Linked DNA regions of Homo sapiens. The protein of the gene in region 2 purifies or fractionates together with the protein of the main gene of each other region. This does not show direct contact. Each region holds a gene or a part of one and is shown on either strand. Other genes may lie near its edges.

Evidence for each region. The genes of interacting proteins can lie anywhere in the genome.
Region 1: the proteins of PDSS1 (region 2) and XAF1 purify together in Homo sapiens (affinity purification with mass spectrometry; one large-scale study listed by BioGRID and IntAct). This does not show direct contact.

What each region holds. Positions count from the first base shown.
Region 1 is NC_000017.11:6,762,546-6,766,045, forward strand, and holds part of XAF1 (XIAP-associated factor 1), read left to right. Parts: intron 1-3,500. UniProt on the Homo sapiens protein: Seems to function as a negative regulator of members of the IAP (inhibitor of apoptosis protein) family. Inhibits anti-caspase activity of BIRC4. Induces cleavage and inactivation of BIRC4 independent of caspase activation.
Region 2 is NC_000010.11:26,704,201-26,707,700, forward strand, and holds part of PDSS1 (all trans-polyprenyl-diphosphate synthase PDSS1), read left to right. Parts: intron 1-476; coding exon 477-541; intron 542-1,085; coding exon 1,086-1,194; intron 1,195-2,999; exon of another isoform or gene 3,000-3,128; intron 3,129-3,500. UniProt on the Homo sapiens protein: Heterotetrameric enzyme that catalyzes the condensation of farnesyl diphosphate (FPP), which acts as a primer, and isopentenyl diphosphate (IPP) to produce prenyl diphosphates of varying chain lengths and participates in the determination of the side chain of ubiquinone.

The sequences.
Region 1 (3,500 bases), on a different chromosome or scaffold from region 2:
AGGGCCTGTCTTACTGTTTTCGGTCCCATGTGGGAGTCTTCTCTATTAGACTGTGAGCTTCCTGCAAAACTGCATGACTTTTTCCATTTTCCTGACATCAGAGCTTGGTGCAAAAAGAGGACTCTGTAGAGGCGCAGTTACGTGATTGACTGACTGACTGATTTTGCCTGGGAACACTCACAGGTTCTTCCCTCCATAGCCCCTAAGCGCCGTTTAGTGCATTGCTGTGCCAAGTTGCTCCCTTCTTTTGCACAGAATGGAGCATTTCCCCTTTGGGAAACTTACCAAGGCTTCTCTCCAAAGAACTCTTCTCCTTCTCCTTGGGCAGAAAGTTGTTTACCTTTCTTAACACTTCAGTGCTTAAAACTACAGAATATCAAAACTAAAGAAACCATAGAGACGATCCAGCTTTTCGCTCTTTTCTTTTTCTTTTTACTATTGTGGTAAACCACGTATAATGTAAAATTTGCCATCACTATAGAGACATTTGGTACATTCACAATGTTGTGCAATCTGGTTCTAGAATATTTTCATCATTCCAAAAAGAAATCCTATACCCATTAGCAGGTACTGTACATTCCCTCATCTTCCCAGTTCCTGGCAACCACTAATCTGCTTTCTATCTCTATGGATTTGTCTATTCTGGACACTTCACATCAGTAGACTCATATAATATGTGGTCTTATGTAACCATCTTCTTTCACTTACCGTAACATTTTCAAGGTTTGCCCGTGTTGTAGTTGTGGCATGTGTCAGCATTTCATTCCTTTTAATGGCCTTTTCTTTTCTTTTATTTTTTTGAGACAGGGTCTCACTCTGTTGCCCAGGCTGGAGTGCAGTGGCGTGATCTCGGCTCACTGCAACCTCTGCCTCCCGGGTTCAAGCGATTCTCCTGCCTCAGCCTCCGGAGTAGCTGGGGCTACAGGTGCCTGCCACCACGCCCGGCTAATTTTTGTATTTTTTTTTAGTAGAGACGGGGTTTTACCATGTTGGCCAGGCCAGTCTCAAACTCCTGACCGCAGGTTATCCGCCTTCCTCGGCCTCCCAAAGTTAATGGCCTTTTTACGGTCATCCCACATTTTGTTTCTCTACTTGTTGGTAAACATTCGGATTGTTTCCACCTTTCAGCTCTTTGCTTTTTGAAGTGCAGTCTGTGGACCAGCTGCATGAGCATCACCTGGAATCCTGTTAGAAATGCAGAATCTCAGGCCCTCCCCCTAGAAATGCTAAATCAGAATATGCAGGGTCACATGATTTCCCAGGCATTTCAAGTCTGAGATGCGCTGCCCCAGCCACGGGATTCTCAGCCTTGGCTGTACGTGGAAATCACCTACTGACTTGTTTTCCTTAGTACTGATGTTTATTCGATCCTATAAGTGGTCCATGTGTTCTGTTTGAATGAGAAAATACTTGGTGAGCACCAAAACAAGAGTAAAGCTGACTACTTCCCTTCAAATGTCCAGCCTGGCAACCAGGGCACCTACACACTTATTTGAAGGCTACAGGGAAGTGGGGAGCTCCAATACACATGGAACTGGATTTGTGCTCAGAAACTCTGAATTTTAGTTCTGCTGTGCCCCTTACTGGCTGTGTAACCTCTCTGAGCTTCTTTCTTCTTTTGAGGAAAATGGGGATAATGGTTTATCTCCTTGTTCAGGAAAAGAAGACATCCACAACCAGCCAACACCAGATCTATCTCCTTGGCAGCATCCACACTCACTTACTTTGCCTTCCCACCTCTTAACCATAGAGGAGCTTCCTATGTGCCTCTCTAAAGCCTATCCCCTCCTACTGGTATAATATACCCTCTCTTTTTGCCTACACAAGGTCACACAAGTTTTTTGCTACACTGCTCCAGCAATTCTCCCCTCTCTGTCCTGCAACAGAGAGAGGTTAAATGAGCTGTACACGCAGGTAACAACAAAGTCTCACATCTCTAGGTTGTCCTAACATTTCTTACAATAACTTTTTAAAGGGGTACCACTATTGAATATTTATATATCAATGGCCTTGCACGAAAAGAATTTTTTTTTAATTTTGAAAATTAAGGATTGAAATCATGTATACTAGGTGGTTTTGTGGTTTTCAGTCTTTAACTTTTTATTAATATGACCCAAAGCCAGAAAAACATGAAATACTTCTGATCCCATTTCCTATAAGCTACCATCTTGTTTCTTTGTTCCCCTCCGTAGAAAAACATTTGAGCTAGTTGTCTATAAGTAACTGCCTCCATCTTTTCTTCTCTCATTCTTATTCCCACTCCAGTCTGGCTCTCCATTTTAACCAAATCTGCTCTTGTCAAAATCAATGACCTCTGCATTGCTAAATCCAATGCTCAGTTCTCAGTTCTCAATTTATGGGAAGCATTTACTGCTCATCACTCCCTCTTCCTCAGTGGACTTTCTCGGCTTCCAGGGTACCACACTTTCCTGGTTTTCAAGGACATTGGTGGTCTCTCATTCTCTACCTCCCCAGCCTCTTAATTTTGGGGGGCCCCAGGGCTTAGTCTCTGGTCTCTTCTCTACCTATATTCACTGCCTTCATTATTTCATCCTACCTCCTGATTTTTAAAAATGCCATATGTAAGGCCGGGTATGGTGGCTCATGCCTGTAATCCCAGCACTTTGGGAGGCCGAGGTGGGAGGATCACAAGGTCAGGAGATCGAGACCAACCTGGCTAACACAGTGAACTCTCGTCTCTACTAAAAATACAAAAACTTAGCCGGGTGTGGTGGTGGGTGACTATAGTCCCAGCTACTCGGGAGGCTGAGGCAGGAGAATGGCGTGAACCCAGGAGGCGGAGCTTGCAGTGAGCCGAGATCACGCCACTACACTGCAGCCTGGGCGACAGAGCGAGACTCCATCTCAAAAAATAGATAAATAAATAAAAATTTAAAAATTTTTTAAAAAGCCATATGTAGTCAGACACTTCCAAATTTATATCTCAGTCTGGGTTTTTCTCCCCAAACTCTAGATTTGTATATTACTATTTACTGCATCTTCACTTGAATGCTTGATAGACATCTTAAATGTAACACATCTGAAATGGAATCCTCTCTGCCACAGCTTGGCCCATCTCAGTTGATGGCAACTCTATCTTTCCAGTTGTTCAGGCCAAAATCTCAGGTTCACTCTCGACTTCTCTTTCCCTCCGCATTGCTACCCTGGTATGAACCATCATCTTCTCTAGCCCAGATGCTGCAGCAGTCTCCTAAACGGTCTTCCTACTTCTCACCTTGCCCCCTACAGTCTATTCTCATCACAGAGGTCAACGTGATCCCTTAAAAATACAAGTCAGATTGTTTGGCTCCTCTGTTCAGATCTCTGTACTGATTCTTGCCCCATTTTATGCAAACTCAAAACTACAGTGGCTTTAGAGATCTATGTCATCTTTGCCTCCCTTCTTATCTCATCACCTCTTTGATCTCATGTACTACTCCTGTTCAGCTCACTGGCCTCCTGATTGTTTCTTGAGCATACCATGCCTTAGGGCCTTTTCA
Region 2 (3,500 bases):
AATAACTACTTTTAACACCCTGGTTTGTGTGCTTTCAAACTCTGTTCTCCCATTTCCAAAGGATGTTGAGGAACACGAACTTAAAATAGACAGTGTTTGTATAAATATAAATTCCTTCCTTGCTATTGAAATCTTTTTTCCTCTGACCAATCTTAGTTAAATGGAAGGAAATTGTTTTAAAACTAATTTTCAGGTCTGGAAAGATAGATATGAATATGGAAATGGCTTTCTTTGGGGGAAGGGATGGACTGAAGATGGTTTTTATTTTCTCCTTTTTTCTTATTTATGTTTTCTGCAATGACAAGTATTTTGTAATAACAAAAGGAAACTTTAAAATTATTCTTCCTCTAAAGTTTGCAATCTACCTGTAAATGGGTGATTAGAAGATAAAGATTATAATTATGGGGGTTTTATCATCCAATGTTACAGTTTTTCAGGAATATTCTTACAAGTTTCTTGACATTTTTATTTTATAGATACCCTATATTAATCTTGTGAAGCATTTAACATCTGCCTGTCCAAATGTATGTCGTATATCACGGTAAGTTTACAGTCCATACTGCAACTACTAAAATTATCCATTTTTAAATTTATTGTTGTTTAAAAAATTTTTTTTGTAGCGATGGGGAGCTCACTGTGTTGCCCAGGCTGGTCTTGAACTGCTGGCCTCAAGCTATCCTCCCACCCTCAGGTTCCCAAAGTGCTGGGATTGCAGACATAAGCACCCGGCCTAAAATTATTAATTATATTGCCTGTAAATTTCTATTCTAAATTGTAGATCTCTGCCTATTCAAAAAACAGGAATATAATAAAGTTTGAGCTCAACCCAGAGCACAATGAACATAGTTTAGTTTTTCTTTGATTTTGTGGGTTCTCAAGGCCCTATTTATAAAAGTGATCTATTGATCTGTCATTTAGCAAGAATAGAATTCTGTATGTTTTTCCAAATTATAATGACCTTTTCAGATTCATGATTAATTTCTAGCAAATATTTGGGCTGAATTTTCCGTATCTGAGTCTACTAAATATATATGTATATAAAACTTACTTGAAAATGAAGTCATGTGCATTTTTGCATGTCCCAGGTTTCATCACACAACCCCAGACAGTAAAACACACAGTGGTGAAAAATACACCGATCCTTTCAAACTCGGTTGGAGAGACTTGAAAGGTCTGTATGAGGACATTAGAAAGGTGAGTTTTTTATTCTGCTGTGATGTAATGTTTTAGCTTACCAAAACTTACTAAAATTTTATTTTATTTTTTATTCTTATAATTATTATTATTTTTTGAGCTGGAGTCTCACTCTGTTGCCCAGGCTTGAGTGCAGCGGTGCAATCTAAGCTCACTGCAACCCTTGCCTCCCAGGTTCATGCAATTCTCCTGCCTCAGCCTCCTGAGTAGCTGAGATTATAGGCATGCGCCATCACACCTGGGTAATTTTTGTATTTTTAGTGAAGACGGGGTTTTGCTATGTTGGCCAGGCTGGTCTTGAACTCCTGACCTCAGGTGACCTACCCACCTTGGCCTCCCAAAGTGCTGGGATTACAAAAAAACAGTGCAGGTTTTCAGATCTGTACAATGCAGTTTGCAATCTTGATTGACGTATGGTCAAGTTTCAAATGTTTCTTGAGAAGAATACATATGACCCAGTGCCAGGCAATATGAAGAATGCAATATGTATTTATGTCCAGAAAGAGGTTATGGCAGGGTTGGGAACCTGAAGGAAAAAAATGGTCCAGGTAGCTCATGCTTGTCCAATGAGTTATCCCACCTTTCCTCTTAAAACCCACCACCTCCCAGTGACTCCAGCTGTCTCTTCCTTATCTAATTCTGAATGTCATTGCCAGTCTGCCCCAAATATGGCTTTCTTCATTCAACTCTTTTTCCTGAAAACTTTCAGTAGTTCCCAACCTCACGTGGTTGGGCACCGTGGCTCGTGCCTGTAATCCCACCAATTTAGGAGGCCAAAGCAAGAGGACTGCTTAAGCCCAGGAGTTTGAGGCTGCAGTGAGCCATGATCCCGCCATTGCACTCCAGCCTGAGTGAGAGAGCAAGACATTTTTTCTGTCTTTAGAAAAAAATTGGCTGGGCACGGTGGATCACACCTATAATCCTAGCACTTTGAGAGGACACCACTTCCTGTTTCACAGACAGTAGGGGCTGTGGAGGAAGAACTCCTTCAGCTCCTGCTCTGTCGCAATTGGCCAGCTTGCCTGCGCCTTCTCTGGCGATTGCCTGCTCTCCTCCCACCCGTGGAAGTCATGTCCCTTCCCTCTCTAGGGGCAGTCCCTTAGCCAACCTCCCTAGTTTCTTAGGAACTCCCCCAGACATGGCCTCTCCCTCTGTCTGCAAACTTTCATTGGCATGGTCTTCCATATCCATTGGGTGTTCAGTTTCTTCACCTGCATTTTTAAAAGGCCCATCCACTGACCCAGTGCTTCACTCCCTCCCTTCCCTCACAGTATCCCCTGCCCTCTGCCTTCCTCCAGTGCCTTCATGTTCCCTCCACTATTGCACTGGGGCCCCCTTTCCAGCCTCTCCTCTGAAGCTGGTTTTGCTTGGGTCACTGATAGCTTCCCTGTGCTAAATCCAATGGATGTGTTACCAGCAGCAAATTTGTACAGGTCTGCAGCAACCTCAATTCTTGCCTCCTCAGAAGAAAGAATTCGACTGAGGGGCCTAAGGCAGAAGGAGAGACGGAGGCAAGTTTTAGAGCAGGAGAGAAAGTTTATTATTAAGTGTAGAGTAGGAAGGGAAGGAAGTAAAGTACACTTGTAAGAGGGCCAAGCTGGTGACCTGAGAGAAAGTGTGTGGTTTGACCTTGGAATTTGGGTTTTAGATGTTGGCATACTTCCAGGGACTTGCATCCCGTCTCCCCGGATTCTTCCCTTGGGGTGGGCTGCCCGCATGCGCAGTGGCCCGCCAGTGTTGGGGAGGGGAGCATGCTCAGTGTGTTTACCGGAGTTTTGCGCATGCTCACGTGAGGCATTCTTCCCATACCAGTCCCAGTTTTCCTAGAAGGACATACACCAATTAAGCTCTGCCATTTTGCCTCTTAGTGTGCATGGTTGAGCCGACTCACCCAACTCCCGAGATCTTATTGGGAAGCTGATCACCAGTTTCAGGTTTTTGTATCTATTGAGAGACTGCCGTCCCTTGGCACCAGCTGTGACCAATTAGTATTTTAGCGACACAGTTAACAACTGCTTGACCATCACGTGATGGTCGCCTTCCTGTTGTGGGTCGGGGAGCCCTCTCCTGCCCTGCTCATGCCTGACTAGCTATCTACTGTAACGGACACTTCCTGGTTTTCTGACCATTGGGCACTATTGACTGTAACCCCTCCTTGAAACATGGTTCCCTTCACTCTGCACTTTGTTCCCCCTCCTTATCCTGAGGCTTTTCTTCGGTTCATCACCTCCAGCTCACTTCCTTTAATTTTGCCATTCCCTGGGGTTCCGTGGGCCCCCTCCTCTCTCTCTTCCTTATATATCTGT